Linked DNA regions of Homo sapiens. The protein of the gene in region 3 binds, or shares a complex with, the protein of the main gene of each other region. Each region holds a gene or a part of one and is shown on either strand. Other genes may lie near its edges. A codon is read from its position in the direction of its gene.

Region 1 (10,697 bases), on a different chromosome or scaffold from region 3:
TGAAAATGGCCATACTGCCCAAGGTAATTTACAGATTCAATGCCATCCCCATCAAGCTACCAATGCCTTTCTTCACAGAATTGGAAAAAACTACTTTAAAGTTCATATGGAACCAAAAAAGAGCCCGCATTGCCAAGTCAATCCTAAGCCAAAAGAACAAAGCTGGAGGAATCACACTACCTGACTTCAAACTATACTACAAGGCTACAGTAACCAAAACAGCATGGTACTGGTACCTAAACAGAGATATAGATCAATGGAACAGAACAGAGCCCTCAGAAATAACGCCGCATACCTACAACTATCTGATCTTTGACAAACCTGAGAAAAACAACAATGGGGAAAGGATTCCCTATTTAATAAATGGTGCTGGGAAAACTGGCTAGCCATATGTAGGAAGCTGAAACTGGATCCCTTCCTTACACCTTATACAAAAATCAATTCAAGATGGATTAAAGACTTAAACGTTAGACCTAAAACCATAAAAACCCTAGAAGAAAACCTAGGCATTACCATTCAGGACATAGGCATGGGCAAGGACTTCATGTCCAAAACACCAAAAGCAACGGCAACAAAAGACAAAATTGACAAATGGGATCTAATTAAACTAAAGAGCTTCTGCACAGCAAAAGAAACTACCATCAGAGTGAACAGGCAACCTACAAAATGGGAGAAAATGTTCGCAACCTACTCATCTGACAAAGGGCTAATATCCAGAATCTACAATGAACTCAAACAAATTTACAAGAAAAAAACAAACAACCCCATTAAAAAGTGGGCGAAGGTCATCAACAGAGACTTCTCAAAAGAAGACATTTATGCAGCCAAAAAACACATGAAAAAATGCTCATCATCACTGGCCATCAGAGAAATGCAAATCAAAACCACTATGAGATACCATCTCACACCAGTTAGAATGGCAATCATTAAAAAGTCAGGAAACAACAGGTGCTGGAGAGGATGTGGAGAAATAGCAACACTTTTACACTGTTGGTGGGACTGTAAACTGGTTCAACCATTGTGGAAGTCAGTGTGGCGATTCCTCAGGGATCTAGAACTAGAAATACCATTTGACCCAGCCATCCCATTACTGGGTATATACCCAAATGACTATAAATCATGCTGCTATAAAGACACATGCACACGTATTTTTATTATGGCATTATTCACAATAGCAAAGACTTGGAACCAACCCAAATGTCCAACAATGATAGACTGGATTAAGAAAATGTGGCACATATACACCATGGAATACTATGCAGCCATAAAAAATGATGAGTTCATGTCCTTTGTAGGGACATGGATGAAACTGGAAATCATCATTCTCAGTAAACTATTGCAAGAACAAAAAACCAAACACCGCATATTCTCACTCATAGGTGGGAATTGAACAATGAGATCACATGGACACAGGAAGGGGAATATGACACTCTGGGGACTGTGGTGGGGTGGGGGGAGGGGGGAAGGATAGCATTGGGAGATATACCTAATGCTAGATGACGAGTTAGTGGGTGCAGCGCACCAGCATGGCACATGTATACATATGTAACTAACCTGCACAATGTGCACATGTACCCTAAAACTTAAAGTATAATAAAAAAAAGAAAAAGAAAAAAAAATAAAGCCCTTCAAGTGCTACAAAAAAAAAAAGAAAGAAAAATCATGTGCTCAACTAAATTGGACATAGTTGTTCATGTTTGTATTCTATGAACATCTAGAAAACAAGTACTTACCATATGTAGATATACACACACATATGTTTTTGGGAAGAAAAATCTTGAAATGGATTGGTTAAAATAAAGACACAGACTTTTAAAGATCACTGTAACTCAGATTTGCAGTATGAACATTTAACTATTTCATTGACAATGATAAAGATTTTTGCCACCCTTCTTTTTGTAAACCATTGCATCAAGAATCACAACAGTGTTTCATTTAAAAGCAACCTAAGGTAGGAAAGAGCGCTGAGTGTGTCTCTAGATTCTAATTATGATTTATTACAAGAAACATTTTAACAATTCTTATTTAACAAATTCCAGAATATCTGACTCTCCTTAAACTTTAATATAAAAGTATCAGTTTTTTTTGTTTTGGGAGTACTTCTTTAAAATCAATTATTTACTGTATATCTTTATAATTATAGCAAATGTAATTAGGATATAATACTGTGTTGGGATTATTTTGCCAACTTTGTTAAATGACTTATTTACAGAAAATCTGACATCTTCTTTGCCTCTATTTTAAGTTTGACATCGAGTGGTTAGAATTTTGAGGAAGTTTGATCAATGATGAAATGATAGCTTGGTAGGGCATGCTAACCTAACTGTTTAAAAAATGTCTCTTCATAATTTATAATGACAAGCACTTAGGTTTTATTTAACTACACTAATGTATTCTATTTAAGTATGTCTAAGTACTTATAGCTTACCTATATCCATAGTATTAATACAGGCTCATGTCTAAGAGTAATTTGTAACTCTAACCTTATATAATGTTTTAGTTTCATTATTTCTAGTGATTCTGAATTACTGCTGTATTTTCTCATGCACATGATAATTAGATGAGCTTCTATCAAAGCATGTTCTTGTTTAATTATTACTACTGCTTTATTAAGGAATATTATTGTTTTTCCCACCTTCATTTCATATCTTCATAGTCCATGGTTATATATTTTTTATTCCAATAACTGACAGAATATGTAATAATTTAAGTTTTATTCAGCCAGATTATAGAGATGAAGAAAAGGATTTGCAAATTAGTTTGATTTTATCTTTGTTCAATCTCCTATCTACTGTTTGTATTATATATTTCTTTTTGTTGAATACAGTTAAGTTTATCTTTAATCAGGACTGACAATCTTTTTCAGTCCAAACCTCTTGAATAGCTAGGAGTAAAGACTTGACAAACTTCAACTAAGTAATATTATGGTAAGAGTCCCTTAACTGTCACACCTTACCTTAGTGGAAATGAGTTAACTAACTTAACACCAAAGAACAGTTGTAGAAGAATAAGCAATGTAGGAGAGAATACTGCTTGCAGTATTGGATTTAAGGGAATTTCCAAGATCTCTATTATTCACTGGCACATGGCGAGGAAATCTGTTTAAATCAGTTGTTTCCAGTTGGTTCTTCAGAGTAGATGGTGTTTATCATTATCAAGGCTCTGATATATCGAATATTAATGACAGATAAAAAAGAGAATCTCAATCATTGAGTATGTCTGCAAAAAGAGCTAGCTCCAATTTAAAAGGGTATTAATTTTCATAGAGAGGTAATATTTTTTCTGTGGTATTCCCCATGCTTAATGTACTTTCTAAACTTGGATGTACTTGGATAGAAATCTGTTGTTTTAAATTGAATATTCCTCTGTTCACCCTTATATTTCATTGAAAACAATATTCAGTGATATCATCAGTAAAACAATAGGTATGAAATAGGTGGCTTCTTTGTTTAATAAATATGATTTTTAGGAATCTGACAAAGAACTAATGAGTTGTTTTACTATAAAAGTTATGTTGATATGCATAAAAATAGAAAAAAATTCCAGATTTTTAGAGAAGAAAAAATATCTTAAAGATAGTTTAGGAAAATGTAAATGAATATAATCTAAAATATTTGTGTATTTGTCATTTTAAAAATATAAATAATTGAGGTAACTTCAGGATAAAAATGTCACTATGATGTGTCATTATATATTTTTCTTCTGAATCACATGATTTATATAGAAGTTTATCTGCAGAATATGAGATTCATCTTGTGTTATCTGAATGACTTTTTATCTGTACACCCCAAAGACTATTTCATGATATCTTATTTTGTTAAATAATTGCTAGTTTTCCAAAAGTATATAAGTTTCAAAAGTGAATTTAAAATTTCAAGAAGACTCATAGCCTGCAAGTCTGATTTTATATTTTCATTCTTTGTTGCTTATTAAAACTACAGTTGCATTAATGACTGTTGAGGACTTTGAGAAGAGTTAGTCTCCCAATTGTTGAAAGGCTAGTGGTCTGCTCTTCTTTTTTCCCTTAACTGTTCAATTCTCAGATATTGACCAGTGGAATAAGGTAATTGAACAACTAGGAACACCATGTCCAGAATTCATGAAGAAATTGCAACCCACAGTAAGAAACTATGTGGAGAATCGGCCCAAGTATGCGGGACTCACCTTCCCCAAACTCTTCCCAGATTCCCTCTTCCCAGCGGACTCCGAGCACAATAAACTCAAAGGTATGCCCTTCAGGAATGACTTGAGGACAACTATGAGGGTGACGGGCCAAACAAGCACACAGTATAGAGACCTCTATCTCTTTCTCTTTGTTCCCTTTTATTTTTAGTTGACACATGATAATCGTACATTTTTGTGGGATATAGGGTGGTATTTTTGAAACATGTATAGAGGTATAATGGTCAAATCAGAGCAATTAGCATAACCCATCACCTAAAACATTGATCAATTCTTTAATTGGCACAGCCTCAAGTTAAAGAAATATTTCTTCAAAGATCGTTCCTACAAAGGGGAGTAGCCACGGATTTTAGAATTGTCTGGATATTCAGGGCCGGGGGCGGTGGCTCAAGTCTGTAACCTCAGCACTTTGGAAGGCGGAGGCGGGAGGATCAAGAGGTCAGGAAATCGAGACAGACCATCCTGGCCAACATGGTGAAACTGCGTCTCTCCTAAAAATATAAAAAAATTAGCTGGGCATGGTGGCACACACCTCTAGTCCCAGCTACTCAGGAGGCTGAGGCAGGAGAGTCGCTTGAACCTAGGAGGAAGAGGTTGCAGTGAGCCGAGATCGGGCAACTGCATTCCAGCCTAGAGATAGAGTGAGCAAGACTCCGTCTCAAAAAATAGATATATATTATACTTCATAATGTAATTCCAATTTTCTTGAGTTTACTTTTTAAATCAATTTGAATCTCTGCAATTATGTTTGTAAATGATAAACTAGTTTGCATATTTGATTATTGAATTTAATTTTTAATATAAAATTGGCAAATTATAAATAATCTTAATATACAAATAACCAAAGAGAAGAATGTATTCTACTGTGTTTGGAAAAGAGCATAACACATTTGCTTTCAAATGAAAGAATGAAAGATAAAGCATTGAAACATTTTCCCATATTGTTTCCTAAAAATAGTATTGTTTCTTAGCAAGATGATTTTGTATTGGTGTAGTTCATGACCCTATTCATGAAGAATCCATTGTAACCCCAGCCCTTTCTTTTTTTTTTTTTTTTTTTTTTTGAGACAGAGTCTCGCTCTGTCGCCCGGGATACCGATCTAGGCTCACTGCAAGCTCCGTCTCCCAGGTTCACTCCATTCTCCTGCCTCAACCTCCCGAGTAGCTGGGACTACAGGCGCCCGCCACCACGCCCAGCTAATTTTTGTATTTTTAGTAGAGATGGGGTTTCACCGTGGTAGCCAGGATCGTCTCGACCTCCTGACTTCGTGGTCTGCCTGCCTCGGCCTTCCAAAGTGCTGGGATTGCAGGTGTCAGCCACGACCACGCCCGGCTAACCCCAGCCCTTTCTAAGAGCAGAAAAATGGATAGATTTGATGAGAGAATCTTATGAGAATGGTACATGAATTTGGATGTAAAATCAGTTACAAATTAAAGAGGTCTTTAAAGCAATGAATAAATAAACACAGCCCTGTTAGGCTATTAGGAGGCCATTGGCAATGAGAAAAATTAAATATTGAATTAATGTATAAGTATTTCTGTATTTTTGTTATTCCTGTGCGGTACAGAGTTTTAATTTGAAAGTAATGATAATCAGTTTCTAGGATTGAGTTTCCCAGAAAAATGATTAATAGAAATAAAAAATTCTCAAGTTTAACTAGTGATTTTTCATATTTGTTCAGAAAATTAAAAGATATATTTATTGATGTAATTACCAAGAAAATACTTACAGGTAAAAAATTAATTGCTACATTTTAACTATAGTATGGTTAATATTACGTGAAAAATACATGAACGGCACTAGAAAAAATATGCCAATAATCACAGTCATTGCCTCTAGCTAGTGGGGTTAGATATTATTTCCTGATTTTTGTATTTTATATAATTTTCAAATTTGTAGAATTAGCCAAGTTGTTTTAATCTGAAAAATTGATTAAATAAAAATTGATATGTATCCAGAGTCATCTATGTTGATTTTTTGAAAAATCCATTTAAATTTTGTTATCTTTAATTTGATGTTTTACCATATAGTTAGAATAAACTGAATATTTTCACGGTTCAACTTTCAGATCAGTTGAGTAACAATATTGATTTGAGATATTCATTTCTGTTAAAACTTTATGTAAAAGACTAGGGGAGGGATAGCTTTAGGAGAAATACCTAATGTAGATGACAGGTTGGTGGGTGCAGCAAACCACTATGGCATGTGTATACCTATGTAACAAACCTGCATGTTGTGCACATGTATCCCAGAACTTAAAGTATAATAATTTAAAAAATTTACATATTTTTAGAGGTTAAAATTAATGTGTCTTTTAACAATCTTACTAAATAAATAGCTATCACCATATAATTTTATAACTGTTACTGCCCACAACCATAAAATTAATTATGATAACCTTTACATAATATAGAGTTTCTCATTAGTGTCTGGTGTAGCATTAGACTGGCTTCAGTCTTTAACTACTGGATTTCATCAAGTCATGATTCCATTGATTAAAAATACCTGATGATTACAGAATGTTAAAATAAAATTCAGTAGTTGAATGATATTATTTCTATCACTTCAATTCTTTGATTGTTTTTATGTATATAAGAAATTTGTGGCTGGGAGCAGTGGCTCACTCCTTTAATCCCAGCATTTTGGGAGGCTGAGGTGGGAGGATCTTTGAGCCCAGAGTTCGAGACCAGCTTGGGCAATGTAGGGAGATCTTATCTTTACAAAAAAAAAGAAAGAAAGAAAAAATAGCCAGGCATGGTGGTGCATGCCTGTAGTTCCAGTTACTCGGGAAGCTGGGATGGGAGGATCCTTTGAGCGCAGGAGTTCCAGGCTGCAGTGAGCTGTGATCATTCCACTACACTCCAGCCTGGCAACAGAGGGATACCCTGTCTCAAAAATAAATAAATAAATAAATAAACAAAAACAAAAAGAAAAGAAAAATTTGTATGATACAAACTCTTAAGTCAATTTATATACTAAAATTCTGATAATTCCGTTGTATAAATAAGAATATAGAGACACACGTGTTGATTAACTTCAAACAGCCGTCCACACATTTGTTGAACATCATGCATTTGCACTCTGTGCTCTTTATTCTGTTTATCCTATATTCATGCAGGTTACCAAAGAAGATGACTTTGCTTACATAAACTCTCCAGGTTGATACATTTTACTAAGAAGTTTGCGTGAATAATTATATACCCAAAGTGTTACAACCCTTGGAGAGCCTCAGAATGAAGCCTTAGGCTTAGAGACACAAAGAAACAGGTGTAAAATGCATTTTCTTTTCCATCACATCAAGGGATTTACCTGATGTTTGGAAGGAAGATACTATTCCATACTTTGTTTTCTTAAATTTCCTCTCTGACAAATTTCCTTACTGAAATCAAAATCTTACTAATTGTTTTTCTCATTTATTGTTTCAGCCAGCCAAGCCAGGGACTTGTTGTCAAAGATGCTAGTGATTGACCCAGCAAAAAGAATATCAGTGGACGACGCCTTACAGCATCCCTACATCAACGTCTGGTATGACCCAGCCGAAGTGGAGGCGGTAAGAAATAGGCTGCCTTTACTTTGCTTCCACAAACAAATCATAGCTCATAGCAAAAACTGAATAGGACTAGAAGCCTAAAGAATGCACAATGGATTTTTATAAAATTTCTAAGTCCAAAGCCTATTATCTGCCCCTCTAAAAGCTATTTTCTTCAACATATGTTTTAAATACATTTTTTTCAGGACTTACTAGAAGAGGGTATGATTTAGTCCTACAAACCTTAGATGTCCATGATACACTACCATTTGTTTCTGTTAAATTGCCAATACTTGTGTTTCTTCTTGTGTGTTTGACTGCCAGTCTCTTCTAATGCAAACTTAGTGGTAGGAAACAACAGAGGACAAGTTGCTTAGCTTGTATTTTTTTTTTGAAAAGATACCTGCCACTAGTAAAATGTGATACTTAAGAATATTTCAATTAGAAAGCTTTTATAAGATGATTAAAACGATTGGTGGCTTTGTGAAACCTTGCATGAACTAGATGAACTAGAAGTGGGTATTTCAGTAAGTACATTACTTCAGGTTGATCAGTATGATGTATCTCCATGTCTGATACCCAGACATGGAGAATCTTCTCAGAAGCATAACTCTTTCTATTTTAAAAATATTTTTCAACCATTTACTATCTTCTGTTCAACCTCTTTCTTTCATCTTTACCTCTCTCCTTTCCTCTGTATGGATCCAGGGCTGAGCAGGGCAAGGGGGGCTTGCTGTTGCCCATGTGTGTTCTATAGGCCTCCTGATGAGAATTTCCTTTCTGCACTGCCTTTAAATGTTTCTATCAGGAATGTTACCTTCTCCCTTAAACATGAGAAGCTTCTCAAATTCTTAGAGTACCTGTGCTAAAGCATCTCATATTTTTTTACATAATACCTTCCAATCCATTTGTTTGGATTTGTTCTTAATCTTTCATTTGAAATACTGTTTGTTTCCCCAAAGTATTCTTAAAGATATTTTCACTTTCTTTCAGTTTTCTTTCCTCTGCTTCACCATGTGTTTTTCCATGTCAGAGGTGCTAGATTCAAACACATAATTCTCATTTCTTCATTCTTCACTAGAGAAGATACGAAAGAAAGTGAGAACTAGGTAGAATTGAACTTTACAGACACAATATTAAACAGGTCCTTTTCATAATGTAACCCAATCTTTAAGCATTTAAAAACTTCAGAGAAAACACTTAAGTGATTAATGAATCTCCCAAGTGTGAAGACTGCACTACATTTTGTTTAAGATCTGCTCTCTTAGTTTTACAATGATGTTGAGATTTCATGTTGCCTCAAGTTAATTTTTAGTCATTTTATTTGATTCTTACCAAATAATATCCCTACAATTAAATATTTCTGAGTTTAATTATAATGTTCTAAAAATTAATATATATTCTTACAACCAAAATATAGAACCTCTTCCAGTCTCCCACACTTGGGAAATACTTGCACAGATGTTCTTGGGATGGAATGAAGTAGTGAAGTAAGTGAGAGAAAGTATGATGTATATGTTTACAAAAATTAAGTATAAAAATTTTATCTCTGATGAAATTCAAGAAAATATTTTAGGTTATGTTGATAAACATTTTATATAAATATGTATTATCTGAAATTGTTTCTCCTCATTTATTTTGAGGCATATTAACTTATGCCTCACTATGTGGCATATTTATTTTTTCTTATATCTAACTTAATATGTATAATCTGTTTTTAATGCATTGTGGCCTAGAGTTTAATTAGAGTCATAAAGTCTGCATTTGTAATTCACTTTTAATTATGTTGCCTATAAAAGAGATAGTTGCTTGGAATCTATAACATCTTACTGAATAGTATCAATGAGTTTTTAAATTTATTTTAACTTTTTATGAAAAACTTCTTTGTAGAATGAAAAGATAAAATTTAGGATACTAAAATAGCTGGAGCCTTTTTCTTAACCACTTTGATATTGGTCATGCTGGGGCACGGATAGTAACAAGGCAGGATGTATGAATTTTAGGGGAAGGATCTGATAGAGCCTGCAGTTCCAGAAAAAGAAGACAGTTAATGCACAGAACAAGCAAGTACTTGACATCTAGACTCAGATCATTGATTATACAAGGGTAAACATGTCTTACATCTAGACATGTTGTAGTGAAGAGATGGGAATCATGATCCCAGGGCAAGAACAATTTATTACTCTATGAAGTGCATTACAGTGGTCACAACTAAGAAGAGAAAGATCCTGAAGGTGCTAGAATCAGTAGTCAGCTATGCTTTCTGCAATATCCTTAGAATTCATGTCTCTGTTATTGCATATGAACATGTGTTTAACATAAGATAACCTTTCTCTATGGACACATGGCAAAGCTATAATATAGTGATATATCTTCTGCCGGGGCTGACAAGACTGTTTTGCAAAATATACCCCCGTATGTCTTTATAATCCAAATAAATGGAAGTATCAAATAATTGGGATTTTTATTCTGATCAAAGAGCTTTCAAGTAACTCACATGCTGTTAGGGAGGGAAGGAAATTCAAAGATGAGAGAGAAGAAAAATAAGTTTCATTGGATGGAAATAATGGCAAGTGGATAGGGGATAAAGAACAAACTATGATAAGGTGATATTTAGAGGAAAAGTCAAAAGAGTATAGATATGCTATGTGTGCTAAGCTATTAGTTATACTACGAGCTATCTTATCATGTTTCCCAAACTACCAAAGTACAAAAATCAAGAGAGAAGAGCATATGAATGAATGTTGTCATAATTCTGAGAGGGAAAATTAGTCATGTACACATGAGTTAGAAAATTTTAAAAATTGGATGCCAAGCTCAAGAGTAATCCATCTGTGTAGTAATAGTACATAAATATTTTGAAATAACTGCTCAAATTATTAGCAACTTCTTATTCAAATAATGTTTAGAGTAACAAAGTGTGATTTCAAAGTAGAACACACAAATCGTGTATAATGTCAATGCTTTTTCATGAAACAAATAGAA
Region 2 (10,697 bases), on a different chromosome or scaffold from region 3:
ACAACTTGAAGGAATTTGTTGTTAAATGACTAGTCCCCAACTATCCTAGTGCTAAGAGGTTGTTGAATAGGAGCCTGCTTCTTGTTGGTCTGCTTTGCCAGCGGGTTGAATTTTGACATATTTCAGTCATCTACATGGTTGAGATGCTTTGTTGCACGAGTGGAAATACAAAATAATGTCTGACATTAGGATTCCAGTGCTCTAGAGGTCTCTGGTCAAGTCAATGGTATGGGTAGTAGCTTTTCTGATTCATGTGGTCCAAGGAAGTCATTATAACCACATAGCTTTATATATGAATCATTTGCCTATGTCAGTGAACTGTGATGCTGATTGTCTTAATCATGAGCTCTTTACCTGAACATTTAGAAGCCTTGCATTCTTACTCTTAATGCAGGTTAAGTTGAACTTTGATTTCAGAAGTGAGTTGACTGAAAGGTAACAGGAGTATTGAAATGAGTTATCCTGTCATTCAGGTCAATAGGTGGAGCTAGAGCAATCCAGGAATCAGACCTAGGTTCATTTCTCAGTTCTGCCATCTGGACTTTGTCATCAAATTCTGGAGCTTTAGGCAAGTGCCTTAATGTTTTTGGCTTTAAAAGTATAAACTGAGGCTGTCAGAACTTTTTTTTATAGAAGGCTTGTTCCTCAGATAGGTGGTTCTTGAGAAAACATACTAGGACAAAAAGAGCCCTTCTTGGGTGATAATCAGAAGCCTAAGTTAAGAACAGTAGTCAAAGTTAGGATTTTGTAATTTTGTAATTTTCAGAAGCCAAAAAAATTGTTGAGTTGAATTTTTTCTTTAATATCCAGACTTAGAAAACAAATGGAAGGCTTCACCATAAGCTAGAGATTCTTGGAAAGGTAGGCTTTTATTTATTCCACAGCATCATGCCTTCTAATGAGACCGTATGCTCCCAGAGACTTTGTGGAAGACATAAAATGAGTTCATTATCCTCAGGAAGCTTATAATCAAGGATTAGACTGAAGGCATCGCTAAACAGTTAATTTATGCTCTTTTAAAAGGTATATGAAAGGGTTCCCGCCAAACAAAAGCCCACTTCACATCTCTGTGCAGGCCAAATTTCACTGAAATCCAGTTTTTAAAATTGTGTGTGTGTGTGTGTGTGTGTGTATGTGTGTATACGTATGTGCATGGAGAGAGACAGAGAGGAGACCCCTTTTTGGAAAACTTAGTAGCTTCCATTCTTTTTCTTGGAGGTGGGTTATATCACAAATACAAGAGATACCTGTGTTTCCTGTTACCCTTTATTATATTTCAGATTTAGTTAAAATCTGCCATTCTTTAGAAAGTCAAGGAACTCAAACCTTACAATGATTGCTAGCGTGGGTTTTAAGGTCAGCCCTGAGTTCTAATCGTGCTCCAATCTAACTGTGGTATAGGCTAGTTCAGGTTATATAACATATTTGGGCCTGTTTTATTATCTGTCAAATGAGAATAATAATAGCACGTAACCTCATAGGGCTGTGAGGTTTAAATTAGGTACTGCATGTAAAGTGCCTGGCACTGTTGTGGTGGCTGGAATGCTAGATACAAGTATTCAGGTAGTTTTTGCTATTGTTATCACTTATATTTAACTTTGAACAAACATAAAATGCCAAGTAAACGTCAAACCAGTTTAATGCACAGTGTCCATTCTAATTCTCCAGAATATGCCATTTGTTTCACTCTGCATCTCTGGGGGGTTTATTTAAAATTCGATCATCTCATGTAATCTGAATTGACTGAGATGATTTATATTAACATTTGGACCAGTAATCCTCTCTATCTTAAAATTTGGAAATGTTCCAGAAGCAAATATTGAAGGGAACATATTTGCCACTTTCACGATTTTTTGCCTTTTCCCACAGGAGAAAATTGCCTAAGCTTTCCTAGGTTTGTTATAGACATCTAAAGGAATGAGAATTTAGGAGCTACGAATAGCTTTATCATGTGACACATTTGAAGAAAATGGAATGCTGTCACATCTTTTAAATTTAGTGTTATTGGGATCTTCGATTCTGTGAAGATTGCAGATTTGTCAGAGACCTGGTAACCACAACAATTCATTGAGGCCTGGAGGCCTCTTAAAAAATGAGGGAGATTATTTATTAGTACCACTTAGAAATATTATCTTTTCTGTATTTTCTGTGGTTTTCTAAGTCTTCTGTTTAGCGTTTCTATGATTATAATGGTGGATTAAATTTCTTGTTCCTTCTCAAGAGCATCTACTATGAGATGACACTGGTTTTTACTTCGGCAGTATTTACTGAGCATTGCACTATACTAATCCAGGTATTCGGTGATGTAGGAACCAAAGGAAATAGAAGTCAGTTTCTACCCTCAGTGAGCTGAGTATAATTTGATAGAAGATAAGGATTAACGTAAGCACATTTATGTCCTAACACAAGGAAGCAAATATTGTTAGTCATTTCATTAGGAATTTCTTTTGTCATTGGGGCATTTGGGGCCTTCCAAACCTTACATCTCTTGCCATGCCTTTGTACTCACTCGATAAACCTGAGAAAGCAAGATATCTTCTTTTCTGATTCCTGGTTTAAGTTGAGAGTGTGGTGCACATTAGTCAAAATCCAAATCATAAGAAAAGGCAAACCTTATGAATTCATTTTGGAATACAACAGGGTATCAAAATAAGTATATGAGAAATATGAAAAGCTGACAGTAGAAAAGATGCTACTCAGGTACTAACCAGAGTTCTCAATCTCCTCTGTATTGAAGCTCTTATGATGTAAGGCTGGATCTGTACTAGAAACACTTTTTAAAGTCTCTCTCCAGTATTGAGAAGTATAGTCCTCCAGTACTGCCTCTTGGTGCTGAGAGACTCAAGCCTGCCACCCACCATATTTCTGGGGAAACTAGAAACGAAAAATAGCCACACACAAGCACTTGCTTTGCTTGGCAGGAAACATCAAAACCATAAGATGTTATTTCCTAAAAGTCATTAATTGGGTAGAAAAATCACCATTTTCTGACTTGTTCCAGGAAGGATGGCTTTCTGATTTTCAGATGCCATTGGGTCAACCAAAGGTAAGATAAAGAAAAGCTACTGCTGTGTGGATTTTTCTGTGACTTGAGAAAGCGTCACTTTTCAGTTAAACAAAAACCAAAGCATCTAGCTTTGGCTGTTACTATTGAGAATTTAAAAGTCTTAATGTTTTAATTTGTTTACATTTTATATTTTGACTAAGTAGTAATGAATTCACTTTGACTCAAAATTCCAAAGATTTAAAAAGATAAAGAATCTCCTTTTCTACTCTGTGTAGCCACCTAGTTCTTCTGCCTGGAAACTGTTAAAATTCCTGTGAATACTTCCAAAGATAGTTTATATATGTTTAAGTATATAATCCTTTGTTCAAAATCCTTGGTCCAGATGTATTTTAGAATGAAGGCTTTTTTTGCAGTTGTGGAAAGATAATGTAGCACATCTACCGTGTTATCCAAAATCCCTAGTAAGAGGTTGTAGCCTCATGATTAAACACATTAACATTTCTGTAAAAAATACAGACATAGGCCAGGCGCGGTGGCTCACGCCTGTAATCTGAGCACTTTGGGAGGCCGAGGCGGGCGGATCACCTGAGGTCAGGAGTTTGAGACCAGCTTGGCCAACATAGTGATACCCCGTCTATACTAAAAATACAAAAATTAGCTGGGCGTGGTAGCGTACGCCTGTAATCCCAGCTACTTGGGAGGTTGAGGCAGGAGAATCTCTTGAATCTAGGAGGCGGAGGTTGCAGTGAGCTGAGATCGTGCCACTACACTCCAGCCTGGGCGGCAGAGGTGTAGACTCTGTCTCAAAAAACAACAACAACAACAACACCCAGAAATAATCAAAGACATTAATATTTTTATAAAAGCATAACAAATACAAGTAGGGTGAATAAAGATTATAAAATCTTATGCTACGTCTCGTCAGGTTTTACCACCAAATACGTTTGTACTAAACTTATTTTAAAAACGTATTTTTCACAGCTTTATGGATTTTGGCTTTGCCAATGAAGGATAGGTGTCATACATATATACAGTACTGTATAGCCTCTGCTCTGCTCCCTCCCTTTTTATTTAATGTAAGTTGTTGCATGCAATATGTATCACCTTTTGCTTTTTTGTTTTTTGCTTGTTGGTTTGTTTTTTGAGACGGAGTCTCACTCTTGTTGCCCAGGCTGGAGTGCAGTGGCACAATCTCAGCTCACTGCCACCTCTGCCTCCGAGGTTCAGGTGATTCTCCTGCCTCAGCCTCCTGAGTAGCTGGGATTACAGGTGATCCACCTGCCTTGGCCTCCAAAGTGCTGGGATTACGGGTGTGAGCCACCGCACGTGGCCTGCTTTTTGTTTTAATATAGCTGAGAGATTATTTTATATCAGTCATATCAGTATGTAAATGGCATGCTTTTTTAACATCTTTGTGGTATTCCATTTGTCTTACTCTGTTTGGGCTGCTATATCAAAATACCATAACTTGAGTGGTTTAAACAACAGAAATTTATTTCTCACAGTTCTGGAGGTCGGGAAGTTCAAGATTAGGCTACTTAGTCAATTTGGTTCCCTGGTGAGGGTCCTTTTCCTGGCTTTATAGGTGGCCGGCTTCTGGATGTATCCTCACATGGCCCCTAAGAGCTCTAGTCTGTTCCTCATCCTATCATGGGGGCTCCACCCTCATGACCTAATATAGTCATGAGAGGCTTAGTTAACTCCTAAAGGTCTCTCCTCCAGATACTATCAAGTTAGAGGGTAGGCCTTCAACATATGAATTTGGAGGGACACAGACAGTCCATAACATCATTATACTGGTATACCATTTAACTCCTTTCTGATGCATATTTAGGTAGTTTTCAGACTTTTGCTATCAAAAGCCATGGTGCAGTGGATTACCTTGTGCATACGTCGTGTTGCACTTAAATGCATAGGATAAATTTCCAGAGGTAGAGTTCCTAGGCCAGCGTATGTGCATTTGTAATTTTATGTATTGCTGAAGTGTAGCCTGTAGAGGTTGTCCAACTTCCATTCCACCAGCACTGTGTAAGGATGCCTGCTTCTTATTACCCTTAGACGTCTTTCATCTTTTAAGGGCTGTTTGTGTTTTCTTTCTTTTGAACTGTCCTTGTCTTTGCATGTTTTTCTATTGCTTTGTTGCTCATTTTCCTAGATTTGTAGGATTAATTTTACAAATTGGCTCCATGCTATTTTTTGGAAATGTTTTTCCCCAATTTGCTGTTTTCCATTCTATGGTAGGCTATTATGTATGGTTCCAACTTTATTTTCTTCACCAGATATCCATCCATTTGTCCCTACACCATTTATTAAATAATCCATCTTTGTCTTAACTGATTTAAAATGCCACCTTTACCATTTACAAAATTTCCACGTGTATTTGGTACCATTGTTTCCATTGACCCATCTGCCTGTTTGGGACCTGAGCCATCCTGTTTTTATTATTGTAGTTTATGCTGTGTTTTCTGCTAGGTCTAATTCCCTTTTATTTCTCTTCCTTTTCAGAAGTTTTTTTCTGGCTTCTATCTTGTTTATTTTATATGAACTTCTAAAAACAACCCATCTAGTCTAGTCTGTACCCCTCCTCTGCCAGTCTTTCTGTTGGAATCACTTTTTTTATTTTATTGTGGTAAAATTATGCACAGCTAGATGCACAAGCATTACAGTCCAATAAGTTTGCCTTTGTATACACTTGTGCAATCCCAGATCAAAATACAGAACACTTCCATCACCCAGAACCTTTTCTTACATCCTTTTCAAGTTACCTTGCTCCCCAGTGATTGGCTTCTATTAAATGGATTCAGTGTACTGTTAGGATTTCTTTGTATTTATAGAATAAGTGACAGCTTTATGATGTACCTTTATATCCAAGAATAGGAAAAACAACCTTTTCATTTGTTGAAGTCTCATTTTGAGTTCCTGATAGCATTTTTAAACATTAAAATTTTTTTTTGCTGTTTTATATATTTAAGTTTTTTTTTTTTTGCTGGAAATGGCATCTTTTTTTCCACTTTTATCTTCTATCTGGTTATATATAAGAAAGCTTTTTATTTTGTATATTAGTTAATATTTCATATATTAAATAATAAGCCCCCTGTAGAATATTTATTATTTCTAATAGTTTTGTAGTTGAATTTTTTATTTTTCTTATGTCATGCCAGCTTTTTTGTTTCCTTTGATTTTTACCTCCTCCCTCCCCCAACTTTTTATACTCTTATATTTTTTCTTATTGCATTTATAGTGGTGATTTTAGAAGATTATAGTTTTCCTCCATTATATGTAAAATGAGCCAAAATATCTGTTTATCTGTTGAGTATTTAAATGTTATGAATAATAATGAAATTAGGGAGGGATTATGGGAATACTTAAAGTAGTGTGAAGTTTTCTCTCTAAAGTTAATGTAACTTGAAATGAATTGTGGTTTTCAAAATGTTAAATGGACAAGTTGGGGATCACTTGATAGTGAATGTAGGATTAGCAGTTAACTGCCTTGTGTCTTATTTGATGATACAGTCATGCACCACATGGTGAGGTTTCGGTCCATTACAGACCACATATGTGACAGTGGTCCCATAAAATTATACCATATTTTTACTCTATTTTTTCTATGTTTAGATACACAAATACTTCCCATTGTGTTACAGTTGCCTGCAGTATTCAGTACAGTAACCTGCTGTACAGGTTCGTAGCCTAGGGTCAGTAGGCTACACCATATTATAGCTTAGGTATGTTGTACTATCTAGGTTGGTGTAAGTAGATTCCATGATGTTTGCACAGTGACGAAATTGCCTAATGATGCATTTCTCAGAAGGTATCCCCGTCCTTAAGCAAGGTGTGACTATGTGTATAGGCTGCTTTCTATGTGCTTAGCACCCAGAGGCAGCTCCCGGAAATATAATTTAGTCTGGTGTCAGAGAGCATGCAGTCAAAGTAGAGGTCAAGATATGAGAAGTATGAAGTGAATGAATGTAGACAGGAGGGTCTTAAGCTTGGAAAAATGCAAAAATCAAGTCAGGAAAGCACAGGAGTGAGAGGGTGCAAAGAGTGAGTTTGATTTGGCAACTGGATTGGGGCAGGTTGCTCATCCTTATAAAATTATATGGTAGTTAGGTACTTAGCTGAACTTCAGTAGAGATCTCATTGCTTAATGGGGATTAAATAGTTTATTTTCTGTCTCTTCTTCCCTTCCCCTGCTCCCACCAAAAAGCTAAGGCAGTTTTCTACTGAAGGACGCATACATCGTTAAGTAAGCTAGAAACAAAAAGTTAGAACCTCGGGAAAACAAGTATCCAGACTATCCTAATGGTATAGGAGCTAATGCATATTTGGTGCCTATCATATACCAGGCACTGTTCTTGTGCTTTATGTATGTTAAATTGTTTAAACATCCCACAGCAACCCTACAAGGTGGGCACTGTTACTCCCATTTTATACATGAGGAAACAGGCATAGAGAGATTATATGGGAAGTTGTTGGTGATCTTGTTGGGTGGTTTTATTAAAGTGGGAAGAAAGAAGCCAAGTTGAAGATGGTTAAAAAACAATGAATGATTTTTCTTTTTAAAGACAGGGTCTCCCTCTGTTGCCCAGGCTGGAGTGCAGTGGTGTGATCGTAGATCACTGCAGCCTTAAACTCCTGGGTTCAAGTGAATCTTCCTGTCTCAGCCTCCAGCCTCCCGAGTAGCTGGGACTCGGCTGGCGAATTTTTAAGTTTTTTGTAAAGATGGGGTCTCACTGTGTTGCCTAGGCTGGTCTGAAACTCCTGGCCTCGTGATCTTACCACCTCCGCCTCCCAAAGTGCTGGGATTATAGGCGTGAGCCACCACACCCAGCCCCTGAATGAAACACTTTGAAAAAGAGTGAGAAATGAGCAAGTGCTGACACAGTGGGTGCAGACCACTCTTTTAAGATTAGCTCTGAAGTGAACAAAGAAATGGGTTGGTGGATAAAGGAAATTGTGAGGCTCAGAAAATGAGTGAAAATGGCATTGCTGTATGTAGGAAAGGGGATGCAGAGTACGGGTAGAGAGTTTGGCCCTCAGTAGAGGAGAGATCTTTTCCATCTAACAGGAGGAAATGCAGAAAAGTTGTGTGCCCTTGCGAGGAAGTTTGGAAGTTGGAAGGTGAAGGCCTATTCTCCTGGCTTTCATCTTCTCTGTGGTTTCTGTTTGCTCAATGAAGCATGAGATTCATACGGGCAGAAAGGGATGGGAGTTTGGGGAGTTTGAAGCAGTTTGCCAAGAAGTATTGATTGTTCATTTAAGGTTTAAAATCTTGAATTTAAAGTGATATCAGTCAGCCTGGTTTTGTGACCCCCCACCCCCCCAGCATTATTTAGCTGATTAGTTACAGGCACAGATTAAGGCAGGTAGTTGAATTTACCCAGGGTGAGATTTTGCCAGGTGTATTAGAGTTCTCCAGAGAAACAGCAAATCGGAGTTATAGGTAGGTAGACTGAGATTTTAAGGCATTTGTTTTTGTGAGGGCTGGCAAGTCTGAAATCTGTAGGGCAGGCAGGAAATTCTTGGTCAGGAGTTAATACTGCAGCCTTGAGGCAGAATTTTGTTTTTCTCAGGGAAACTTGTTTTTGCTATTAAAGCCTTACCAAGTGATTGGATGAGGCCTACCCACGGTATCAAGGATAAGCTCCTGTACTTAAACTTGACTGTTTGTAGATATTAATCACATCTACAAAATACCTTCACAGCAACTACATTAGTGTTTGAATAACTGGGTACTACAGACTAGCCAAATTGACACTTAAAACTAACCATCACACCAGATCAGTTCAAAAGAAGGAAAGGGGGACAAGGGAAATAAGGACCTTTTAACTAGAATGCTTATTGTGTGGTGGTGGTTGAGTGTGTAACTGGCCACAGGGTTTGAGTAAGTTAACTTGAAAGATTGAATGCCATGGTCAGAGTGGAATACCTGAAAGAGAGATTTCACAAGTATGACAATTATTGACATTAATAATGCTCAGGTTAACTTTGGGTGTGGGCTTCCGAGGTGGAATTCAGAGACAAATCCTGAACGTGAGGAGGCCAATGAGTTAAAGAGTCTGAGGTATTAAAAAAGGGTCAGTCTGCATGCATGGTGAAATCAGCAACTAGTGAGGGGAGTAAGGGTACGTACTGTAAACCAGTTGTAATGTCCTCAATGAATAAGGAAGAATTGGAGGGAGGCTAGACGAACAAGAAAGGTTAAAGGTAGTGTAACAGGCTAAGTTTGCTTGTCACAAATTGGGAATTTCAGAAGGCCAAGTAAAGGAATTAGGAGGATGAAGAATTGAGTCAAATGGAGGACGTACACAGCAGTGTGGCAGTGAGAATTCAGAGAATAATAGATAACCAGGGAGAGCTGGATTTTTTCTGGTGACCATAAGCAGGGATGTGAGGTATGAGAGGATTAGTCCTGATACAGGAGATGGTGGTTATCACTTTTAGTGTTGTAGGACTCTGTGGCAGTGCTTTCAGACTGTTACTCATGACCCATTAGTAGGTTATAGAATTTTGGGAGATCACAATTTCTGTTACGTTGTTAAAAGAAATGAAATAGAAAATACCATAGTGTGTCATGTGTAATAAGGGACTAAGAATTTTTTAACGGTTTTATTGAGATATAATTCACATACCATTATAGTTATCTATTTGAAATATACAGCTCAAAGCTTTTTTAGTATATTCCTGGAATAATGGAGCCATCATCACAGCCTAACTTTAGAACATGTTTGTCACCCCAGAAAGTAACCTCATACTCACTAGCAGTCACTCCCCATTTCTTCACACACACCCCCTCCTCTCCCTGGCCCTAAACAGCCACTTACCCACTTTCTTCTCTATAGTTTTGTTCATTCTGGCTATCTCTTTTTTATTTTTTTGAGATGACGTCTTGCTCTGTTGCCCAGGCTGGAGTGCAGTGGCGTGATCCCGGCTCTCTACAGCCTCCACCTCCCGGGTTCAAGCAATTCTCCTGCCTCAGCCTCCCGAGTAGCTGCGATTACAGGTGCCTGCCACTAGGCCTGGCTAATTTTTTTGTATTTTTAGTAGAAACAGGGTTTCACCATGTTGGCCAGGCTGATCTTGAACTCCTTACCCCAAGTGATCTACCCACTTCAGCCTCCAAAAGTGCTGGGATTACAGGTGTGAGCCACTGCACCCAGCGCATTCTGGATCTCTCATGTAAGTGGAATCATACACTGTGCGATCTTTTGTGACTGGCTTATTTCACTTAGCATGATGTTTTTAAGGTTCATGTATCATGTATCAGTACTTCGTTTCTGTTTTTTTTTCTTTTCTTTTTTTTTGAGACAGAGTTTCACCCTTGTTGCCCAGGCTGGAGTGCAATGGCGTGATCTTGGCTCACTGCAACCTCTGCCTTCCTGGTTCAAGTGATTCTCCTACCTCAGCCTCCCCAGTAGTTGGGATTACAGGCGCATGCCACCACTGCCAGCTTATTTTGTATTTTTGGTAGAGATAGGGTTTCTCCATGTTGGTCAGGCTGGTGTTGAACTCCTGACCTCAGGTGATCCCCCACCTTGGCCTCCCAAGTGCTGGGATTTCAGGTGTGAGCCACTGCTCGGCCTTTTTTTTTTTTTTTTTTTTTTTTTTTTTTTTAAATTAGATCAGGTCTTGCTCTGTCACCCTGTTACCCAGGCTGGAGTGCAGTACCATGATCGTGGCTCACTACAGG
Region 3 (10,580 bases):
TTATTTTTCAACTATCAAGTAACAATCAAATATCATAAAGGTTATACAACATGGAAAAATACAATGCTATAAAAGTAAAATAAAACTTATTTGATATAATTCTGTAAAAACTGCAATATATATGCACAAACTAGAAGAAAACAAAAATAATGAACACAATTATTTGTTAGTATGGCAAAACAAGTTGATATATAAAAAAATTGTTCCGACACGTTTAATAAATAAAAGCAGGCTGGGTGCAGTGGCTCATGCCTGTAATCCCAGCACTTTGGGAGGCCGAGGTGGGCGGATCACAAGGTCAGAAGATCGAGACCATCCTAGCTAACACGGTGAAACCCCGTCTCTACTAAAAATATTAAAAAATTTGCCGGGCGTGGTGGTGGGTGCCTGTAGTCCCAGCTACTTGGGAGGCTGAGGCAGGAGAATGGCATGAACCTGGGAGGCGGAGCTTGCAGTGAGCCAAGATCGTGCCACTGCACTCCAGCCTGGGCAACAGAGCGAGACTCTGTCTCAAAAAATAAATAAATAAATAAATAAATAAATAAATAAATAAATAAATAAATGCAAGCAAACATACTAGCCCGAACAGTAAAATTAGAAAAACCAAAGCTATAACATTGGAGCAAAGCTAAAAAAATTAGAATGACAAAGGTTTCGGTTCTGCTAGCAAACTAAAGAATATTTAGGGAATATATTTATAAACTTATGGTCAATATTATAGATAAAAATACTATATATTACAAAAATAACCAAAGTCCATATGGTATTTTGCCAATTACAATTATTTCTCCCTGTCTTTCCCTACCAGTCTTGTTGAGAATCTCTGTGGTAATAAGCCACTACTACTGTTGGAAGTATTTTGTATTCCTTGGGTAGAAAGGCAAAAAAGTGGCTGAGAACCACTATCTTTGTTAAGATACAGAATGCAAATATGGGTGAATAGGCAAAGCCCCCAAAACATTGTTTACATCTCTTCTTTACTGTCAATGTCAAAATGCCAAGGAAAAAAAATCAATAAACATACTTAAAAAATGAAAAATGATGCTGGGTGGTGGCTCATGCCTGTAATTCCAACACTTTGGGAGGCCGAGGCAGGTTCGAGACCAGCCTGGCCAACATGGTGAAACCCCGTTTCTATTAAAAATACAAAAATTAGCCAGGTGTGGTGGCGGGCACCTGTAATCCCAGCTACTCAGGAGGCTGAGGCAGGAGAATCACTTGAACCTGGGAGGCAGAGGTTACAATGAGCTGAGAGCGGCACTGCACTCCAGCCTGGGTGACATAGCAACTCCGTCTCAAAAAAAAAAAAAAGAAAAGTGAAAATGAATACACTAGTTTCAAGGTTGCCAACAAGAATAAATTGAAAAGATATATATAATGAATACATATTTATTTATAATTATATAATATGTAACATTAAATACACCTGTAACACAATGTGTAAAAATAGGCCCGGGTGCAGTGGCTCATGCCTGTAATGCCTTAAAAGTGAAAATGAATACACCAGTTTCAAGGTTGTCAAAAAGTCTCAACAAATTGAAAAGACACATATAATGAATACATATTTATTTATATTTATATAATATGTAACATTAAATATATTTATATTATAAAATAATGTGTAAAAATAGGCCTAGTGTAGTGGCTCACGCCTGTAATCCCAACACTTTGAGAGGCCAAGGCGAGTGGATCACTCGAGGCCAGGAAGTCGAGATCAGCCTGGCCAACATGGTGAAACCCCATCTCTACTAAAAATACAAAAATCAGCAGGGAATGGTGGTGCACCCCTGTAATCCTAGTTATTCGGGAGGCTCAGACAGGAGAACCGCTTGAATCCGGGAGGTGGAGATTGCAGTGAGCCAAGACTGCACCACTGCACTCCAGCGTGGAAGCCAGAGGGAGACTCTGTCTCAAAAATAAAATAAGATAAAATACAATTACTGATGGCCTTAAAGATCCACAAATTTCCTTGATTTTCTATGAAACTATCTTATACCTTACTATATAACCTTTTAACCTTGAGAAACATAACAAAGGAAATAAAATGTTCTCTGGGGTTTTCCTTCAAATAGAAATAGGTGAATACTATCCTACTACTTCAACATTAAAACTTACATAAAGAGAACATGCAGCATTTTAGACAAGTTCTTAGCCTTGAGGAACAGGTGTGAGTATGAGATAAACACAGAAATACTAAATTAAACTCCAGATTATAACAATACTAAGTGAATTTTTTGGTTTTTGTTTTGTTTTGAGATGCAGTCTCATTCTGTTGCCCAGGCTAGAGTGCAGTGGCACGATCGGCTCTCACTGCAGCCTCCTGCTCCTAGGTGCTAGCGATTCTCCTGCCTCAGCCTCCCCAGTAGCTGGGATTGCAGGCGCCTACCAACGTGGTTTCACCATGTTGGCCAGGCTGGTCTTGAACTCCTGACCTCAGCTGATCCGCCTGCCTCAGCCTCCCAAAGTGCTGGGATTACAGGCGTGAGCTACCACACCTGGCTAAGGTGGGATTTTTTTTAGGGTACATTTTAATTATACAAAATAACCCAACAGGTGCTATATGCATTGACTTTTATAAAAATCAGTTGAATATTAATTATTGCTATTCACTGAATTTTTAACGAGAGGTTCTGATGAAAATCTGGTTTTCATAAGGGAGACTTCAACTACTTTATATTCTCCAATGACATTTTAGTAAGAATAAAAAAGAGAAAGAAATGCCTACTTATAGGTATATTTCATATTGGAAGGAAGAGCCTTTAGACAAAATTAGTAGAAAAAGCACACATTGGTGAGATTGTTTACCTGATCTAACACGATCTAACAATTTACCAGACAAGAACGTATGTATCATTAAAACCGAAGTTTTCCAAAATACAAAAATTTGGGTAGAAAAAATGTACATTATTTTTTGAAGAGTTAATGCTACTTACAGATAGATGTTTGATGTATGGCATATTTTTCTACCATAGTCATAGAGCTTTCAGATCCTGAATACCAATAAAGACCACCCCAACCCCACTATTTGTTAAAATGCTGACAACCATTTCTACTATTTATTTATTTGAGACGGAGTCTCGCTGTGTCGCCCAGGTTGGAGTGCAGTGGCGCCATCTCGGCTCACTGCAACCTCCGCCTCCCAGGTTCAACAGATTCTCCGCCTCAGCCTCTCGAGTAGGTGGGACTACAGGAGCCAACACACCCAGCTAATTTTTGGTATTTTTAGTAGAGACGGGGTTTCACCGTGTTAGCTAGGATGGTCTCGATCTCCTCACCTCATGATCCGCCCCACTCGGCCTCACGAAGTGCTGGCATTACAGGCATGAGCCACCGCGCACGCCCAGCCTCTACTATTATCTTAGCTTAAAAACAAAAAACGCCAAAGAAAAAAGTGCAGGAATTCCTGGGTTACATATTTAACTAATAAAAATACAGTGCCCCAAATACGAAATAAACATTCGGATAAGATATTTTAAAAAGGATTTTCAGGAAATGCACCCGGAGCTATAGAAGGTATTATGTACACTACACATACAAAAAAAAGTCCCTGAAAGCTCCTTCCTGACAATTAAAATACATAACAACTAAGTTCTAAATTTCCACGATATTACATTTTAAATCAGTTCTTAAAACTTAATGGCAGTAGCATTCTCTCAAAGCAAGATTAAACGTCTTAGGAAGGCAACATACACATCATGGTAAATTTGGAAGATTCTCAGAAACTCTTTTACACATCACGGTAAATTTGGAAGATTCCTAGAAATTATTTTACAAAGACGAGGATTCTTAACTATTACGCAACTACTGATGGCCTTAAAGATCCATGAACTTTCTTAATCTGCAGAGGGGAATCTGTATATTTAAAACGTATTTTACAAGGATGTTCCTAACATTTTTGAAACAAAGTTTTTACGGTGGATTCCTCAAGTAAGGAAAAAAAAATTAATACATGATAAAACTGCTTCTGTGTTTGTACTTTAAGACACTTAAACCTGTAGGTTTGACTTTTTAACAAGCTTTTATAAATAAAGCTTTACCTTCATAATTTTGATTCAAGAGACCAAAGCTATATGGCTATTTAAAGATCAGAACGGCTGTTACTCACAATGATAACGCCAGTGGTCATGTTTCTTCAAATAGGACAAAAAGTGTGCTCAAAGAAAGTCAGTTTTTGTTCTGATTTTAAATGTATATCTTAAATGCATGCATTGTGACCGTCTCCATAATTTAAAACCTCTAAGAAATTTAAACTTTCACATTATAATTTAGGGATTAGTCAATCCCTTAGTACCAGTTAAATAATAGCCAGGAAAGCATTAGAAAACCTGAAGGTACATGTAAAGAAATGCTTTACATCACTATTTAAAATAGGTGTTGAATTTTAAGAGAAACATTTCTTTCACTAAAATTTCTGATGCCTAAGGTCCATCAGGAGTAATCTCTTTTACTCCATGATATTCACAGTAGTTTTGCTCTTGGCCTCACCAGTTTTAAGACTCTCCATTAAAGAAAGCCAATTTTATACTACCTAGGGGCACAAAAATAGTTCCCAGCTCCTCCTCTCTTTTTCCTCCTAGGTTCGGTTAAACGAGCGAACATAGAAAACACGTACACACACTCCCTTTCGGCCCTGGTCCCTAGGGCATTGATGAAAAGCAAATTATTTCTTTACATACGCTCTGCTGTCCACCCAGAGATTTAAAAAAAAAAAAATAAGGGAAAATACCAGAATCAGTCTGCACCCACACCTAAGCCCCGCCCCACCGGGAAAAAGCTGGGGGTAGCGGGATTGTGAGGGTGGCGGAAAGGACGGAAAAGGCCGAGACTTCCAGCTCCTAGGTTCTCCACACCATTCTTTCCTTCAAGCTGCACCGCAGCCAGGGACCCTGATTCTATTTTCAGCCGCGCCTCCCGATCCTCCTCCCCGCCACCATCACCAATACACGGTCCTCAATCGCTTGAATACTGGGTGGGGAGACCAGAGTGGGCCCTCTCCCCGCCCAACCCAAGGACTGTGGGTGGGAGAGGTCTCCCTGCGCACACGGCTGACTCGACGCGCGCCCCGAGGACCTCTGAACTGACCCAAGTAGGGTGAAGATAATTCGGAGGGAGGGGTCTAAGAGGGAGCCGTTATTCCTTTTTCCTCTGCCTTAGGAAAGCGCGCGAGAGGGAGGGGCCGGAACAACGAACGCTGGTTACCTAACGGTCCGGCCCAGCCAGTCAGGTTCCCAAAGCCCACACCGCGCGGGCCGCCGAGGTGGCAGCACAGCCACAATCGCCCCAAGGGCTAAGGAGCACGTCAGGAGCACCCGAGGTGATGGGAAACGGGGGGTGGGGACTGTGCTGAGCGACGTCGCCATGTTAGCGCCTTCTTTCTCCGTATCCCTACAGTCTCCAGCCCTGCTGACCTCTGCCCATCGTTACTCACCTTTCCAGGTCACTAGTTCATGATCCTTTCGGTCACCCGCGAGCCCTGAGCACAGCCGTGTTTACAAAGCACCCCTGGAGGAAAAGGCTGAACGGCACTTTAAAGGCCACGGGCTCCCACAGGCTTCCGTCCTCTCTCGCGAGATCGGACTGACAACCCCCGCCCGCTCGCCCCGCTCCCGGCATCCCCACCTTCCTTCTGGCGCCCCTCCCCTTCACCCACACGCCCCTTCTTGCCTTCCTTCTGAGGGAGCGCCTCCGAGTCAGGTGATTCCGTCAGGCTTAAGGAGAAGAAGGCGGGTCTTCGGCAGGGCGGGTAGAGGGGACGGGCATCAAAGAGCACTCGGGCGCTCATGATTGGACAAGGAGCCCGAAGGGCGGGAAGCAGTTCTGGAGGGGGCGGGACCAGAGGGCCCAAGGAGCGTTACTTCTGTAAACCCGGAGCTGTGGAAGACTGTGATTGGCTGTCGGCTGGAGGAGGGCGCGGGTGCAGGCGGCGGTGAAGGGCTAGGCAGGGCTTTGGCGGTGTGAGGGGAGGAAAGGTGGTGAGCTCCGGAAAGGCTGCTAGAGGGAAAGCAGGATGGGTCCTCCGAGCCCAGCCCCAGGAGCCGGGTGTCTCCGTTTCCGTCACTTCCCAGCACTAGGTAGGGAGGTGGGTAAAAGTAGGCTGCGTTCCTCAGCCCACCCCTTGGCTCCCCGGGAGCCTGAGGCGGGGAGCTTCGGGTTAGGTGAGGTTTGGGGGAGGCGGAGTTTGCTGGTAATTGCCCATCCCTCCCCTCCAAAAAACCCCACACAACTTAAAGATTTTAATATTAACTGTAAGGATGTTGGTTATTCAATAAATAGGCACAAGTTGAAAAGTATGATCAGAGGCCTCTGTGAGAATTTACATTATTCAATAAAAGATTTTCAGTGTCTTATTTTTTCCATTTATTAAATACTGATTTCTAGTCTGGAACAAAATTATGAACTAGTTTATATATTAACATAAAATACACTCTCAAAATTGTTGAAAGGTTTTGGGGGATAGTATGAGAGTTAATGAGCCTGAAGTTCAAGAATGATATCTGGCATAAAAGTGAAATTGTAATGGCATTGACATTTTAACAGGTAGGTCTCTGGACCGCATACATGTGTATAAGCCAACTCAGTCCTCTTTTAAAACTAATTTTAGTTAAGAAACATTAAGCCAAATTATTAACACTTTCCTACTTAAAATGAAAGTACCGTCCCCATATAGTAACAGTAATGTAGTAGTGCCATTGTAGTGTAACACTAATTATGTCAGCAAAACCTCACAGTTCAGATTACTCATGATGGAAATGGTGGACAAAATGTTTGATTGACATCACAATTGTTAGGTCTAGAACGCATTGATTAAATAGATGCTTCTCTCTCCATCTCCCAAAACAACTAATGTGAGAAAAAGAACTGCAAATGTTACGACATTTCAAAAGAAGTTTGGGTCAATTAGAATAGATTTTTTTAAAAAAATTGTTTTTCCATTTGAAATTTTTTCCAGTGTTGATTCAATTGGGCAGTAGCTTTGGTTTTAAATTTCTCATTGCTACTTCTCCAGTCTGTTGTCAAGCAGTTAGTTATCTACATGATGCATTCGAGAAACACATTATTTTAAAGAAAGTCTTTCAGTTCTTTTTAGACAAGAGAAGAACTGTTTAGTGATATGAACAGTACTCTGATCTGTTTTGATAATTCAGTTTTAGCTAATTTTCTAAAGAGAGGGTATACCTAAAGTGAGAAAAAAAAATAAGATAGGCGCAGGAAACAGGTGGAAACTATGCCGATCTGTTATATATGCATTTTGGCAGCCCGGCATTTAACAAAGGGTCTCACTTTATCCACATATTTCTAGTTCCACAGCAGTTTGTTTACTATAGTTTTTCTACAAGTGGGGAAAACATTCAGCATTGTCAAAATGAATGTAGTTACCATATTCAGGTCTGATTCCATGAACTTGTCTCACTACTTATTCATATCCTCATAAAATGCCACCCTTTTCCATCTTTGTTCTCACTTTTGCATTCCTCAATATCCCCAAGAGTCCTAAAATTCTTTACAGTCTTCTCTTTACAAACGCAGGAAACTTCTTGTAGACCTCTTCTTTGCCTGTCTTGTTCCATGATGCATCTACCCAACTTAGTTCTAAGAGAATTAGTGAGGGTCTAGTGAATCTCCTTTAAGAACCCAGCATAACTGCTAAATAAAACTAATATTCCTTAGATACAAAATGAGGCTATTTGAAGAAAATGCATTTCTGTCATGAAAATGTTAATAAATATCACAAGAAACAATGATGGTCTCTAAGTGCCCTCAAAATCTTACAAATGCCACACAATGTGGTATTTCCACCTTAGTATGATAGGGCTGCTAATCCATAATCTGTTAAAACTGCTCACAAAAATTCTAAAACGTGTGTGTGTGTGTGTGTGTATGTATGTATGTATATATATGTGTATATATGTGTGTGTGTGTGTGTGTGTGTGTATATATATATCTGTTCTCACGCTGCTAATAAAGATATACCCGAGACTGGGTAATTTATAAAGGAAAGAGGTTTAATTGATTCACAGTTCAGCATGGCTGGGGAGGCTTCAGGAAACTCACAATCATGGCGGAAGGGGAAGCAAACATGTCCTTCTTCACATGAATGAGTGCCCAGCAAAAGGAGAAGCCCATTATAAAACCATCAGATCTCTGAGAACTAACTCACTATCATGAGAACAGGATGGGGAAACCACCCCAATGATTCAATTATCTCCACCTGGTCCCTCCCATGACATGTGGGGATTATGGGAACTACACTTCAAGATGAGATTTGGGGTGGGGACACAGCCAAACCATATCTCTCTCCATCTTCCCTTTCAACTTCCTCTCCTTCTCTCTCTCACTAATAATTGATTTTCAGAACATAGTTTCTGTTTGTCTGCAGCTAACCAAAACATAGAAGACTACAGGGCACCCCTTATGTCTACTTGGTACAACTAATCCTAGGCTTAGGGAAAGAGCCTCTACATTTTCATGATATTCTCAGGATGCAGCCCAGTACAGTGGATTAGCTGGGATTTTATCAGTGGGATCAAGGTAGGGGTGTGTGTGGTGTGTGTGTGTGTGTGTGAGATGTGAAAGGGGTGGGAGACGCAGGACATGATTACCCCACTGATATCTGAGAAATGAAATAGGATAATGTGGCCCTAGACGTTGTACAGACATTTTGGTAGCTTCTATCTCATGGCAGATCTTTTCCTCTCTCTGCCAGCTCAGGGTCTTCCTGCACATTGCTGAAATGGCCTATGTTAAAGTTACCTCTCAGCACTTGTCCTCATCATGGACATTTTAAGTGCAGGGATGTCTACCCTCCAACCCAAATCTTGGGTTTCCCAAAAGAATTTATAATTAATGGGGTGTGGCATTATGGGGAAAAAGGGCTATGTTTATCTTCACATCATACCAGTTAGCTTATACTACCTTCAACAAAACCAGCCCAGAGAGAGGGAGAATGGAATTTAAGGGCCTTGTTTTCATTCTTGATGCTAATGCCACCTCTCTCTCTCATCTGACTCACCAGAAAGAGGGATTGCCATCATTATATTCTTTTTATACAATATTATTAATAAAAATAGGATCACTCCTACCTTTCATAGCTTCCCATAACTAGTCTATTTGTCAACCTGAGGCCCACGTAACACCAAAGCCATGTGATCTGTATCCTAGAAATCAAGGGAGGTCTGTCAGCATATGGATCCTCCTGGGTCCTTAGACTACCATCCTGCTCGTTTCAGTTACCTTCTTACCTTGGATACAGCCTCATAGGTCAACTATGGCCAATGAGGTCAAGCATCAACCTAATGCTCTCCTTACTCATAAAGCATCTATATTAATTGAGCATGAACATTCCAGGCACTGTTTCTGGCTCTGAGGTGACAACTATAAATAAGACAAAGTTTTTTCAGGAGACTCTTGTGGTTGGGTGCAGGGGCAGGGGGAGACATGCTACATATATAAACAAGATAATTTAAATTGTGGTAAGTACTATGGAGAAAATAAAGCCGGGGTGTAATAACATACAATATTAGAACTTGCTTTTTAAATACAACTTTAGAGAACTTGAAAGTAACAGACACTTTAGATAGCACTAGAGTGGTCGGAGAATTCTGTGAGTTGTCCTTAAGATACAACTCTTGAGGGAAAAATACTGCGATGTCTGGCAGCTGAGAGACTCAGCCAACCTGTGTAGCTATTTGAGGAAGCAAAGCCTGGGATGCAATTATAAGAGGAGATCCTGGAGTCTCCATGGCTGGGAAGTGCTGACTAAAAGCTGTTGTTGAAGCGCCACTGACAACAATCATGGGTCCTCAGGAGTCTCTGCCATAATAAGTTGTAGGATGCTAGCTCATGCTAATGGGAGGAACAACCAAAAGCTCTTGGATTTATGAGTCTCTATTGGTCTTAGGTACTCTCTTTACTTCCTCTCTCCAATATTTAAGCTCCCTTGAGAAAGAAGATCGAAGTCACTAAATGTCTCAGAGGAGACACATTACTTTTGTCAATTCAGGAGAAAGAAGTGCAAATTCTTGCCAGGAACCTGAACCAGTTTTTAGGGAAATAATATTTTTTTGCCCTTAATAATGTAAAGAATTGGGCAAGTAACTGATGGACCATGTATTTGGGTGTTAAGTCCATAACACTGTCAGTAGAATTATAATATGAAATAACTACGTTGATATGCTCAGCATGTAGAGGAATCAACAACTCATTTATAATTTCCTATGTAGAAATCACAAAATATTTTAAAAGGCTTTGCACGTAGGACCATAACAATACAATTTTTTCCTCTTCCAAGTACCCAACACCCAAACCAAACCATATTCACTAAATTTGTCTAACAGAACTTAAAATTTACAGCAGAAGCACAAGTAGTTTATTTGGTTCTCAAATGTTATTTCCCATTTATCTACAATCCTGCCTTAAAATTAACAGCATTTACATTTATTTCTACCCAACTTCAATCACTCAGCAACTTGACCTCAAATTTTGATCATTCCTCGAGCCTACCTTATTTCCAAGATCTTGAACTCTGAAATTCTTTAAATTTCTTGTGTATTTTTTGGTTCTTATTGAAATGGCTTTTCAAC

The links.
Region 1: the proteins of ATF2 (region 3) and MAPK10 are in contact, whole or in part, in a crystal structure (PDB 4H36), measured with the Homo sapiens proteins. Residues at the interface, in NP_001243019.1 of Homo sapiens: Lys48, His49, Met51, Thr52, Leu53, Lys54, Phe55; in NP_620448.1 of Homo sapiens: Asp150, Ala151, Gln155, Met159, Glu164, Arg165, Tyr168, Val197, Lys198, Ser199, Asp200, Cys201, Trp362 (codon at 7,707), Glu367 (codon at 7,722).
Region 2: the proteins of ATF2 (region 3) and MAPK8 are in contact, whole or in part, in a crystal structure (PDB 6ZR5), measured with the Homo sapiens proteins. Residues at the interface, in NP_001243019.1 of Homo sapiens: Phe36, Val44, Lys48, Met51, Thr52, Leu53, Lys54, Phe55, Gly56, Pro57; in NP_001310257.1 of Homo sapiens: Asp112, Ala113, Gln117, Val118, Met121, Glu126, Arg127, Tyr130, Leu131, Tyr133, Val159, Lys160, Ser161, Asp162, Cys163, Val323, Trp324, Asp326, Ser328, Glu329.

Annotation. Positions count from the first base shown.
Region 1 is NC_000004.12:86,061,302-86,071,998, reverse strand, and holds part of MAPK10 (mitogen-activated protein kinase 10), read left to right. Parts: intron 1-4,043; coding exon 4,044-4,226; intron 4,227-7,608; coding exon 7,609-7,733; intron 7,734-10,697. UniProt on the Homo sapiens protein: Serine/threonine-protein kinase involved in various processes such as neuronal proliferation, differentiation, migration and programmed cell death.
Region 2 is NC_000010.11:48,309,623-48,320,319, forward strand, and holds part of MAPK8 (mitogen-activated protein kinase 8), read left to right. Parts: intron 1-10,697. UniProt on the Homo sapiens protein: Serine/threonine-protein kinase involved in various processes such as cell proliferation, differentiation, migration, transformation and programmed cell death.
Region 3 is NC_000002.12:175,162,622-175,173,201, forward strand, and holds the start of ATF2 (cyclic AMP-dependent transcription factor ATF-2), read right to left. Parts: upstream 5,583-10,580; 5' UTR 5,429-5,582; intron 5,089-5,428; exon of another isoform or gene 5,012-5,088; intron 1-5,011. UniProt on the Homo sapiens protein: Transcriptional activator which regulates the transcription of various genes, including those involved in anti-apoptosis, cell growth, and DNA damage response.